Regions from separate parts of the Homo sapiens genome. Here region 1 is linked to region 2. Evidence: fine-mapped expression QTL. A gene starts in region 2. The other region holds a variant in brackets. All regions are shown on one strand. Distances are from middle to middle. Region 1 overlaps MED12L (mediator complex subunit 12L). Region 2 holds the start of GPR171 (G protein-coupled receptor 171).

Region 1 (5,326 bases), 24 kb before region 2:
TGAAACCCCATCTCTACTAAAAATACAAAAATAAGCCAGGCATGGTGGTGGGCGCCTGTAGTCCCAGCTACTAGGGAGGCTGAGGCAGGAAAATGGCATGAACCCGGGAGGCGGATCTTGCAGTGAGCCAAGATCGTGCCACTGCACTCCAGCCTGGGCGACAAAGTGAGACTCCGTCTCAAAAAAAAAAAAAAAAAAAAAAATTAGCCGGGCATGGTGGCACGAGCCTGTAGTCCCAGCTACTCGGGAGGCTGACGCAGGAGAATCGCTTGAACCCGGGAGGCGAGGTTGCAGTGAGCGGAGATCACGAAACTGCCCTCCAGCCTGAGCAACAGAGCAAGACTCCATCTCAAAAAAAAAAAAAAAAAAAAGAATTGCTGAATTTATAAGTTATTACCACAGTATGTTTTATTAAAATCAAAGAACCCTCTAACAGGGATTAATACACAAAACAGGGAGGAAACATACAACACTTTGGGTTAGAGAGTATATGGGAATCACTTCTGTACAGTATTTCTACTCCCACTTAAAATTCTGGATATTTATATTCTTTTCCTTTGGCTATATAAGCCTGAATCTTGAACAAACACACAAGTGGTTGATATTCAGCTAAGCAGTTAAAGCTGTTGTTTTCTCACACATGGAAATTTGTCTTCATCTTCACAGCAAAGGATAACCACTAATGGTCTAACAGCCCCATGATCTGCAGATCTGAGTACTGCTTGCCTGAGAAATGCAAATACCATCTCAGTGAGGCGAAAAGAGGTCATGGATTCATTTCCTTGCCTGGCCCCAGGGAATAGGACCACATATTCCAAAACAATGCTGCAGAAGAACAGGCTGGAAAAAATTCAGTAATTCAGGCAGCTCAACCTAGTTCCAGGAGAAAAAAGAATTGGTTCCCAAAACCCTGAAGCCAGGAGTGATGCAGAGCTTTGTGCCACTCTCATGAAAGATTAGCATTGTGTAGGGACTGGTAAATTAGAACTGAAACACTCTGGACTTCATACATACACTCTGTTGTTGAGTGCCACTTCCTGTGACTAGAATAGAGGGATCATCAGAAGCAAAACCTCTCCCAATTTGTCCCTTGTTCAAGCACTGCTGGGCCACATACTGGAGGAAGCTCAGAGCACTCTGCAAAGGGTCTACTGTGCCTCCTGCAGCCCTGAATTTCAGTGTAGAAGAGCGTCAACTTAAATCAACTTAAAGAAGAGGGGAAACTGTCAGGAGCCTGATAGTTTATTCTGTTATCAGCTGAGTCACTCCCTGTACGCGCAATGTTCCCACTGAGTCACAGCCTGCCTCACACCAGGTATTTGATTCTTATGGGAACAGGAACCCTAGATGTAGCTGAGGTAGCTACTACTTCTCCCCTCATTTTAGACATGTAAAAACTGATACACAAAGGCAGTTAATAATTATCGCAATATTCTAGCGCCATACATGTAGCCAAGGCCCACTGTATCCCACAAGCATGCATGTAATCATTATGCTGCACTGTCTGTCCTCTGTCCACTATTCCAACAGAGCAGTAAATAAAGCACACTTCACATTCCTAGACCTTAGCATACAGATTACTTACTGCTGATGAGTTATTCAATTACAGTTAAGGTCTGACCCCAACAAGAAAGCTAAATTCTCTTCCTGTATCAAAATCATCTGAAACATACCTACCATTAAGGGGTCATTCCAGTGGTTCTCAAGAAAATTTAGAAATGTGTGGGGACGTGGCTGGTTGCACAAACCATGGCGTTCTACTGCCACCTAGTGGATACAGGCCAGGGATGCGGCTAAACACCCAACAATACACAAGACAGCCTACCCACAAAGAACTGAAACCGAAAAAAACAGTTAACAGTACCAAGGCTGAGAAACCCTGGACTATTCCAATCATTATAGGCAAAAAATTACAGGTCCATCCTGACTACCAAGATGCAGTCCCTAGAGTAAAGGCTAACAGTGGGTGGCCATTTTCCTGGCCCCCAGTTTGCCATTCGGGAAGACTGCATGACTATGTATCCATTGGAGGTCATGAGGTGCCTATGCCACACCTCACCCTCCACTGACAGCTCCCATGATCCATTTGCATAATCACAAAGTGAAGACAGGCTGGAGTTCTTAGACATGCCAATATGCTAGACTTGCAGTCTGCCACAAGCTATGCCAAAAGTGTTTTGAGGGAAGCGATTAGAATACAAAGTAAAGACTATGTTTGGACGTTATCAGTTTATAAATCCAACCTAATCCGTCCCCCCTTACCATTCTCACACATAATCAAGAGTTGGATCTGTTTGTAGCAGAAATTCAGATTTCTTTTATCTTTATGGGTTGTAAAGACTGTGAATACGAAGATCAAGAGGGAATCAAGAGAGGGCCGAATTTATGCTTTGGTGGAGGAGGAAGTTCTTGGGTATCTGCAATTCAGCCTAAGAAGAATATTTAGATATTTCTAATGTGAAAACTTAGCACAGCTCCTCAATGAAAGTATGTGGCCACACCATTCAGCCAATTTTAAGTTACATTAACACATGTTGGTCACTGACCTGGATTCTAACTGAAGGTAAAGTCGATGGGTCACAGCAGCAGGAGTTAGGATCAAGTGACCTGATCTTGAGCTCACATCTCCTGCCAGAGAAAACTGGCTGAAGGTGACAAACAGCAGCAAGCAGAGCTCTCCTTGTGCCAGGGGCCCCAGGGGATCTGCGTGTGGCATCCAAACCACATGCAGCAGATCTGGGTTTCTCCCTGCAGAAGAGTTTCCACCATTTATAGGTTAACGTTACCTGTTGTAATCACCATTCATGATAGTCCGACTCTGTATCTCTCTTTGGATATCAACGCAGGAGATAGAAAACTGAGTCAAAAAATCAGAAACTCATTTTAAATACTTTTAGAAACTGGCAAATCAAAAGGAGGTTCTCTATGCC[G/A]CAGTATCTGGAAGATAACTGAAGAAACTGAAGGCATCCACCTCATGCAAAACCTTAAAACTCAGATCAAAAACAAAAATAATATATATACTCTCAAACATACACACATGCACATTCCTTTCTTGAAAAAAAAACACTGGCTGACTTCTCAAGATGCGACTCCAGCAAAATGTTGAAGGGCCTGTGTAAAGGATCACATTCATATAAAACATGCTGCCCCCACATTCTTTCAGGAGCAGGGGAGCCCTGGCTTGGAATCAATCAGACATTAGTTTGAATACTGTCTGGCTATGTGTTAGGTGCCCTTTGATGAATCACTTAACCATTTTAAGCATCACTGTCCTCATTTGTAACGTAAACGTTTACTCATTGGCAAGATTCCATCATGTTACCCAAGAGCTTAGGCCATCCATTTTCCCCCACTGTGACAGCCTCTCGTGTCAGTCTTGATGCCTGTTCCTATAGCTCTCTCACCCCAAAACTCCTTCCTTCTTCTTTGCCTAGCTAAAGCCAACTCATTTGTCAATCTTCACTATCACATGCTCCAGGAAGGCTGCCCTGATGCCACCATTTCTGAAACTAGATACGTGCTCACTGTGTTCCTGTGCTTCCTCCTTCAATGATGACCCCATGTCATACCTTGAAGTGTCCCTCTGTTCAGCCTCCCCCTAGACTGGAATCTTCCTGAGAGTTCCCTGATGTGTTTCCATAGGGCATGGCAGCATGTTCTGACGGCTTTATAGTGAGCAAATGAACAAAAGGCCTTGGCAAAGGAAGAAATATCAGGGGTACACAGGAGCCAAAGGTTACAATGTACTTTATAAACAGCAGATTTCAACAAGGGGAAATCAATGATATCAAAAACTGCAAGCAAAGAGGTCAGGAAATAGAATAACTGAGAAAAAGACAACAGACTTAGAAATTAGGTCCCTGACAGCTTCTGAGAAGTGTGGTGAGTGTCAAACATCAAATGCTGTGGGTAATGAAAAAAGATAGGGGGTGGGAGAGTTCCTTCTTCTGGGTGAAGGAGAAAGTGAGATTCTCCTTGACTGAGCCTAGACAGGGCACGGACAAGAGTGCCACAGGAATGCAGAACACGGATGAGACAGCTACCGATAGGATCTGACAGAAAGCTGCTACGGTTTGAGTGTCCGTTTCAAAATTCATTTGAAATTGATTTGCCATTGTGACGGCATTAAGAGGTGGTACCTTTGAGAGATGATTAGATCATGATAGCAAAGGCCTCGTGAGCAAATTAATGGTATTACTGCAGAAGTTGGCCCTCTTTTTCTCTTGGTCTCACATGCTCACTTGCCCTTCCACCATGATGCAGCAGGAAGGCCTCACCAGATGCATCCCCTCCATCTTGAGCTTCAGAGAATCCAGAACCATGAGCCAAATTAATTTCCTTTCTTTATAAATGACTCAATACGTAGTATTGTTATAGCAGCAGACAATAGACTAACACAGGAGCTAAGCAGAAGAAGGATTTCTGAGAAATAAGGGGAGTGTAGCCAATTACAGAGAGAGAACAGCAACTTCTGTGAAGTCGAGGGCACCCTGGACAGGTCTATGACTTAGAAACATAGGACATTGTTTACCCAGCCCTAAGGAGTCACAGTGCTGGGGCAGAAAGGCAAGCCCAATAGGCAGGGTGAAAGAAGTTCTAAAATATCCAGCTCTGCTTGGGTAAGAAAAGCTAGGAGGCTGATGACAGAGAGAATTAAATAACACTAGTAAATAATATAAAATATTTTAAAGATGTAAAACGCTGTAAGTTATTTTAGTAACATAAAATGTAATAAGCATGTTCTGATGGCTTTAGTGAGCAAATGAACAAACGGCCTTGGCAAAGGAAGAAATATCAGGGGTACACAGGAGGCAAAGGTTACACTATATAAACAGCAGATTTCAATAAGGGGAAATCAATGATATCAAATGCTGCAAAGAGGGTCAGGAAATAGGATAACTGAGAAAAAGACAACAGGCTTAGAAATTAGGTCCCTGACAGCTTCTGAGAAGTGTGGTGAGTGTCAAACTTTAAATGCTCTGGGTGATGACAAAAGATAGGGGGTGGGAGGAGGATTCCTTCTTCTGGGTGAAGAAGAAAGTGAGATTCTCCTTGACTGAGCCTAGAGAGGGCACGGACAAGAGTGCCACAGGAATGCAGAACACAGATGAGACAGTTATTTGTAAATTATTTTAGTAACATAAAATGTAATAACACAACTATAAATACACGACACATAAATACTATGAAAACCGCATAGGCGATCACATTGACACCAAAAAAAAAAAAAGTGTTAAACATTAAGGCATGAGAGATTAAAGCAGCAAGAAAATGGCTTCAGTAAGTTTAAAAATGTATAAATGATTACATACATCTATACTATTTT
Region 2 (5,392 bases):
GTTGCACAGGCTGTGGCAGAAGTGACTGATCATAAAAATCTTCCATTTGTAAATTATTTTGATGTAAGAGCGTCCCAAATTCACATTCCAGAGGCTGAAAACTCCATGAGGAAGGCAAGAACAGTGGTACACTGTTCTACCACCCAATGGCATGCAAATTCAAATGGTTACAAATACTAAATGGGAAGGGGGACCGGATTGACCTGATGGCCTCCATTGTAATCACTGTCCCCAGCAATTTCATTGTAAGAAGCATAACTAAGAGCTGGGACGCTAGGGTCTAACTGTGCAGGCTTGAGTGGGCCTTAATTTCTCTGCACCACAGTTTCCCCATCTGTAAGAGGCAGAATCTCCTGTATCTCATGGCTTGTTTTAACAAAAACAAGTCCTCAGACCTGTGCCCGGCTGTGGCAGTGACCACCGACCCCAACATTTGCTTTCCCCTTCCTCATTAGTTCCAAATGGCTTCCATGCTATGCCGAAAAAGCACATTTTAAAAACGCTAAATATTCAAAGCAAGTATTTCTACTGAAATACCGTTGTTTGGTATTTGTGTTCAATAAAATCAAAAGCACGTTTTGTATGGATAGGAGAGTTGACCACAGAAAATATTTTCTTTCTCAATTCATAACTTGGTGGACAATTTAGCTTTAATTTTTATTTTACACATACAAAATATCCATGAAATATTCATAAGTAATGAATAGATTATTTCTTTAACAAAAAGTACTGCCATGACCAAGGTAAGGGAAAAATAACTTCACCTCACTTCTTCCCGCTTGGGTGTGTATTAGTGATGACATGCAACTTCCCGGAACACTAAGTACAGTCACAAACACTTGTCCTCAGTGAAACAGATAGAAAAAAGTGGCTTATAGAAAATCAAATGAAACTAGTATTAAAAAATGAAAACTACATGTATTTCCACTGTGAATAAACTTCCACACAAAGCCAGGTTGCCTAAGCTCATTCTCAGAAGGAGGAATATGATTCATCTATTAAAAGATTAATTCTCACTATTCTAAAAATTAAATAGAACTCTGAGAACAAGGGCACTTCAGTGCTTTCACATTTGGCAATCCAGACACAGAAACTGTGGTCTGGGTAGATTTTTAAGTACAATTGTTTGTACTTTTCAATTGTGTCTACAACCTTAAAGTGAACCGAGGAAGTAAACATATAAAGAGACCTAACTAAAAAAAGCAAAACAGAAACTGTCAAAAATCTTTCATCCCAGTTTTTCTCCATGCCATGGTAAAATCATTCACCACTGTTTGCAGTCAACTCCACTCATCTCTAAATTCTCTCCCTTTCATCTCCTCTACCCTCCAGTGGATGTAAACCCTGATCACTTCTCACTTACTTGTCTGCAAATATATCTTTTCTACAAGTATGTTCTTCAGTGAGTCCTGTACAATGTTGAAGCATACATATCTTAAAAGAAAGATCCTTTCCTAGCACTATGATGATGAAGTTCACAGTGGTTCTTAACATAAAATGTTTGAGAAACATTTGCTTTTTCCCTCCTAGTTTATAATTTATGGTCTTCACTGGCAAAAATAATAATTATATGAATTTGGGAGAATGTCAGAATACCTGAGACGTGACCAATATCATCATAAGCATCTTTACATTTTTTTCAAAAGTCTCCTTAGACTTTCCCTAAATTCTCCCTAGCTAGATACTTCTCATTTCATCTTTTGAGACATTTTTCTTTTTAAAAACTAATACCAAGAGATTAATTTTAGATCCTGGAAAGGTATCTTCTTTTTTCTTATCCAGAAAACTGACCAAGTATTATTAAAAGAAACCAAAGCACCTACCAAGCCAATGAAGCATTAGAAGAAACCAGACCCTAAATAACCAGGCAATGGCTTTGCATTAACACATCAACTTTGAACCAGAAAATTCAGAACTCTTGAAAATATGTTTGTTAGGTCCCCCAGCATGCTAGGCTTCTTTCAAACATTCAGTTAGTTCTGCCACAGACACAATGAACATTTAACCAAACAACTTAAATACACACTGTAGGGTTCCTTTACACACAATCTATTAATTACTAAATACTATTCCAATTCATCAGGCTGTTTGAGTCAAACAGACAAATACTTATTACAAGTCTAATCTCATAAATTGAATATATAATATATTCTTCAATGAAAAATTATAAACTATAAAATAGTATGAATAACATCTAAGTGGAAATACATAAGCATAGAAAAAATTTAAAACTTATGTACCAAAAATATTAACAGTAATTATCTCTCTGCATAATGATGTTCCTTTTTTATTTCTATTTCCAGATTTTTCTATAATGAACATAAAATAAGATAAATAAAATGTATACATTAGCTGACTCTGTAAAACACATCTTTTTGTTTACTTCTTTTTTTAATAATAGGTGTCTCAGCAGGAATAAAAACTGCAACTATTTTTTAAATTTTAACTTTGAAATGCTGTGTTACTATATATACTGAAAAAATATTTGCTTAAACACCTTATATCTTTAATTATTAATCCCCATCAAGGCATGAAGAGTGATATTCTTTGAAATCATTATGACACAAAACATACCTTGGATACTTTAAAAAAAAAAAAAGGCTAGGTACTAAATGAAGATCTTTTCTCTAAAAAATATGACAAATAAATTGCTTAAGAAAGCATACATGAAATTGTATACATTAAAAAAACTTCTTTAGGAGACTTTCATAAAGTTAAACTACTTGCAAACCACAGTTTCATCTACGTCAATATGCAACATTTTAAAACCACACAAAAAGGAAAGGAAATTTTTAGTAAAGCCAGCAGCCTGCAATGGGGTTGCTACTGCTGCGGCTAACCAAACAGCTCATGCTTCTCTGAAGACTTGCAGCAAGGCTTGCTGAGGCTCACAGAAGATAGCCCCAGGTATGTCTTTTTAAACACTTAATATATTCAAATGCTTTTCCGTGGAAAACAAAATTGTGATTTTTCAGTATTTAAGGCTTATAAGTAGAAAAAGCCAAGCTGTATAAAAAAAAAGCATCAATTTTTAAACTCTAAATAGGTCCTAGCTGTGAATGACACTATAATTTTCTTATATCTGATGAACCCATTCATCTGTCTCCAAAAGACAGGATAATTGACACCAGACTGAATACCTGAGCGAGCATAACTATTCAGTAACTCAATCTTATAACTGGGTGGATAGAGGCCATGTTGTAGATCTTCACAACAGGGAACAACAGGCCTTAAGATGACTTTCCTCTACAAACATTACAATAGGTGATTTCAAGAAGATTCCACTGTGATTCCCATAGAAAATCTAATAAGCTTTTATTTTGTTTTTGTTTTGTTTTGTTTTTGAGGAGTCTCGCTTTTTCACCCAGGCTGGAGTGCAGTGGTGCGATCTCAGCTCACTTCAACCTCCACATCCCGGGTTCAAACAATTCTCCTGCCTCAGCCTCCCGAGTAGCTGGGATTACAGGTGCCCGCCACCGCGTTGGCTAATTTTTGTATTTTTAGTAGAGACAGGATTTCACCATGTTGGCCAGGCTGGTCTCGAACTCTTGACCTCAAGTGATCCACCCGCCTCAGCCTCCCAAAGTGCTGGGATTACAGGCGTGAGCCACTGTGCCCAGCCAGTTTATTTATTTTCTAAGCAATGGGCACTCTATCCAAACTACAGAGACAGTTAAAATCTTGTATTGTTGTTGCTGCACTACTTCTGAGTATCTCACATTTTCACTGGTAAGTAACTGTCTGGTAAAATATTTATTAAGCACTTAGTTCTCAAACTTGTGACACAGAACACAGGATGTTATTATACAATATTTTAACCTCTAATTTACATAAGCAAAAATTTTAAATAAACAGATTTGTTTCTCACTGCAATTTAGACAAAAGTTCACAAACACAAATGTGAGAAATGTGAGATGCTCCATGATTCTTGAGAATTACTGAATGATTATTCATTTCAGATAAATTATTCATGTACGGTATATATCGTCAGTTCTAGCTACAGAGAAAATTAATCAAAATAAATTACTCTAATTCTTCTCTTTACCATATACGTCTCATTGATACAACAGACTTATTTTATAGTTGTGCAAGCAATGGAGCACTTAAAGAAACACATTATGTTACCATTATTATGTAATATTTGAAATAGAAGTGCGTAAGCCAAAATCCTAGGGCCTTAGAAAGTAACAATAAGCAAAGATGTGACACTATATCAATGCACACGAATACTAGTTTTTCACATAAAGAAGAAAAGTATGTTCAAAATTCCAAGGTACAAATGGTAACTATCCAAATTCATGGTCGCCAAGGACATCGGTAAAGCCTGGAGTAGCTTTCAGATGTGAGGAGCTTCCTTAAAGCTCTGGAATAAGCAGGATTCAGGAATAGTAAGGATAAATGCAGAGCGCTTAGAAGATGACCAATAAGAACAGATCTTAGTCCTGCCTGAACATGCTGTGAAAGCTTGAGGAACACACCAGTGCCAGCCCTCAATCTCCTCAACTGACTTGGGGATTAGACTACAGGCTATCGATAAAGTTTCCATCCATCCTTAAAATCCTATGACTCCAAAATTTCTATCACATGCAAAAGTATAAAGGCAGGAAGGAACTGTACACAGAATAATAGAGACCCCACCAATCCCAATCTTAATCTGGGATGTAAGTAGAGATGGTAGAGAGAAACTAGGTTATGGAAGCTTTGAGAGCAAAGTTGGTTTAAACTTATTGGATGGGCCTAGGTTTTGTTTTTAAATGTGCGTGTGAGAGAGAGAGAGAGAGAGAGAGTGTGTGCACGTGGTTGTATGCATAGAACAGCAAAATATACGAAAAGCCTAAACTTATATTCTTAGTATTTTGGTAAAAAGTTAAAAATAGTTTATTTCAGCTTTATTACATAAAAATTGTTTAGAACATAGTTCCTGCCCACACAGTAAGCCCTTAGTAAAGACTGGCAGATATAATAATAATCATTATCATTTCTATCATCATCTTACTATTGTTACTGAGGCAGTGTTTTGGAGTGGTTTTGAATGTGATTCTGAGATCAGACTGACTGAGCTGGAATCCTGGCTTTATATCTTACCAGCTACACAACCTTGGGTAAGTAACCCCATTATGCCTCAATTTCCTCATCTGTAAAGCAGGGACAATAACAACACCTAGCTTATGGAAATGATAAGAAGTTAAATAAGTACATGTAAAGTATTTGGCATAGTGCCAGATACAAACCAACTGCTTAATTATTTTCATCGAGTTTGGTAAAGAATGACATTATTCATGGACTCTAACGTGCTAACTCAGGTAGGGAAAGAGAAAGGGCATGTAGCCTTTAAGCAGCACTTGAATTTAGAAAGCTTTGTGTACATCTGCCTTATTCATCTGTTTGCATA

What was found.
Region 1: its variant is fine-mapped to the expression of GPR171 in whole blood (INTERVAL, PIP 0.91).

Annotation. Positions count from the first base shown.
Region 1 is chr3:151,224,351-151,229,676 of GRCh38, reverse strand. The region is part of intron 16 of MED12L (mediator complex subunit 12L); the gene reads right to left. All of the region lies in intron 1 of P2RY14 (purinergic receptor P2Y14), which reads left to right. Among named protein-coding and RNA genes, the nearest start is that of GPR171, 24 kb to the right of the region's middle. The variant G/A (reference allele first, on the strand shown) is at 2,931.
Region 2 is chr3:151,200,619-151,206,010 of GRCh38, reverse strand. GPR171 (G protein-coupled receptor 171) reads left to right here and starts at 2,795. Exons shown (of 3, transcript NM_013308.4): 1 at 2,795-2,907; 2 at 5,014-5,102. All of the region lies in intron 16 of MED12L (mediator complex subunit 12L), which reads right to left.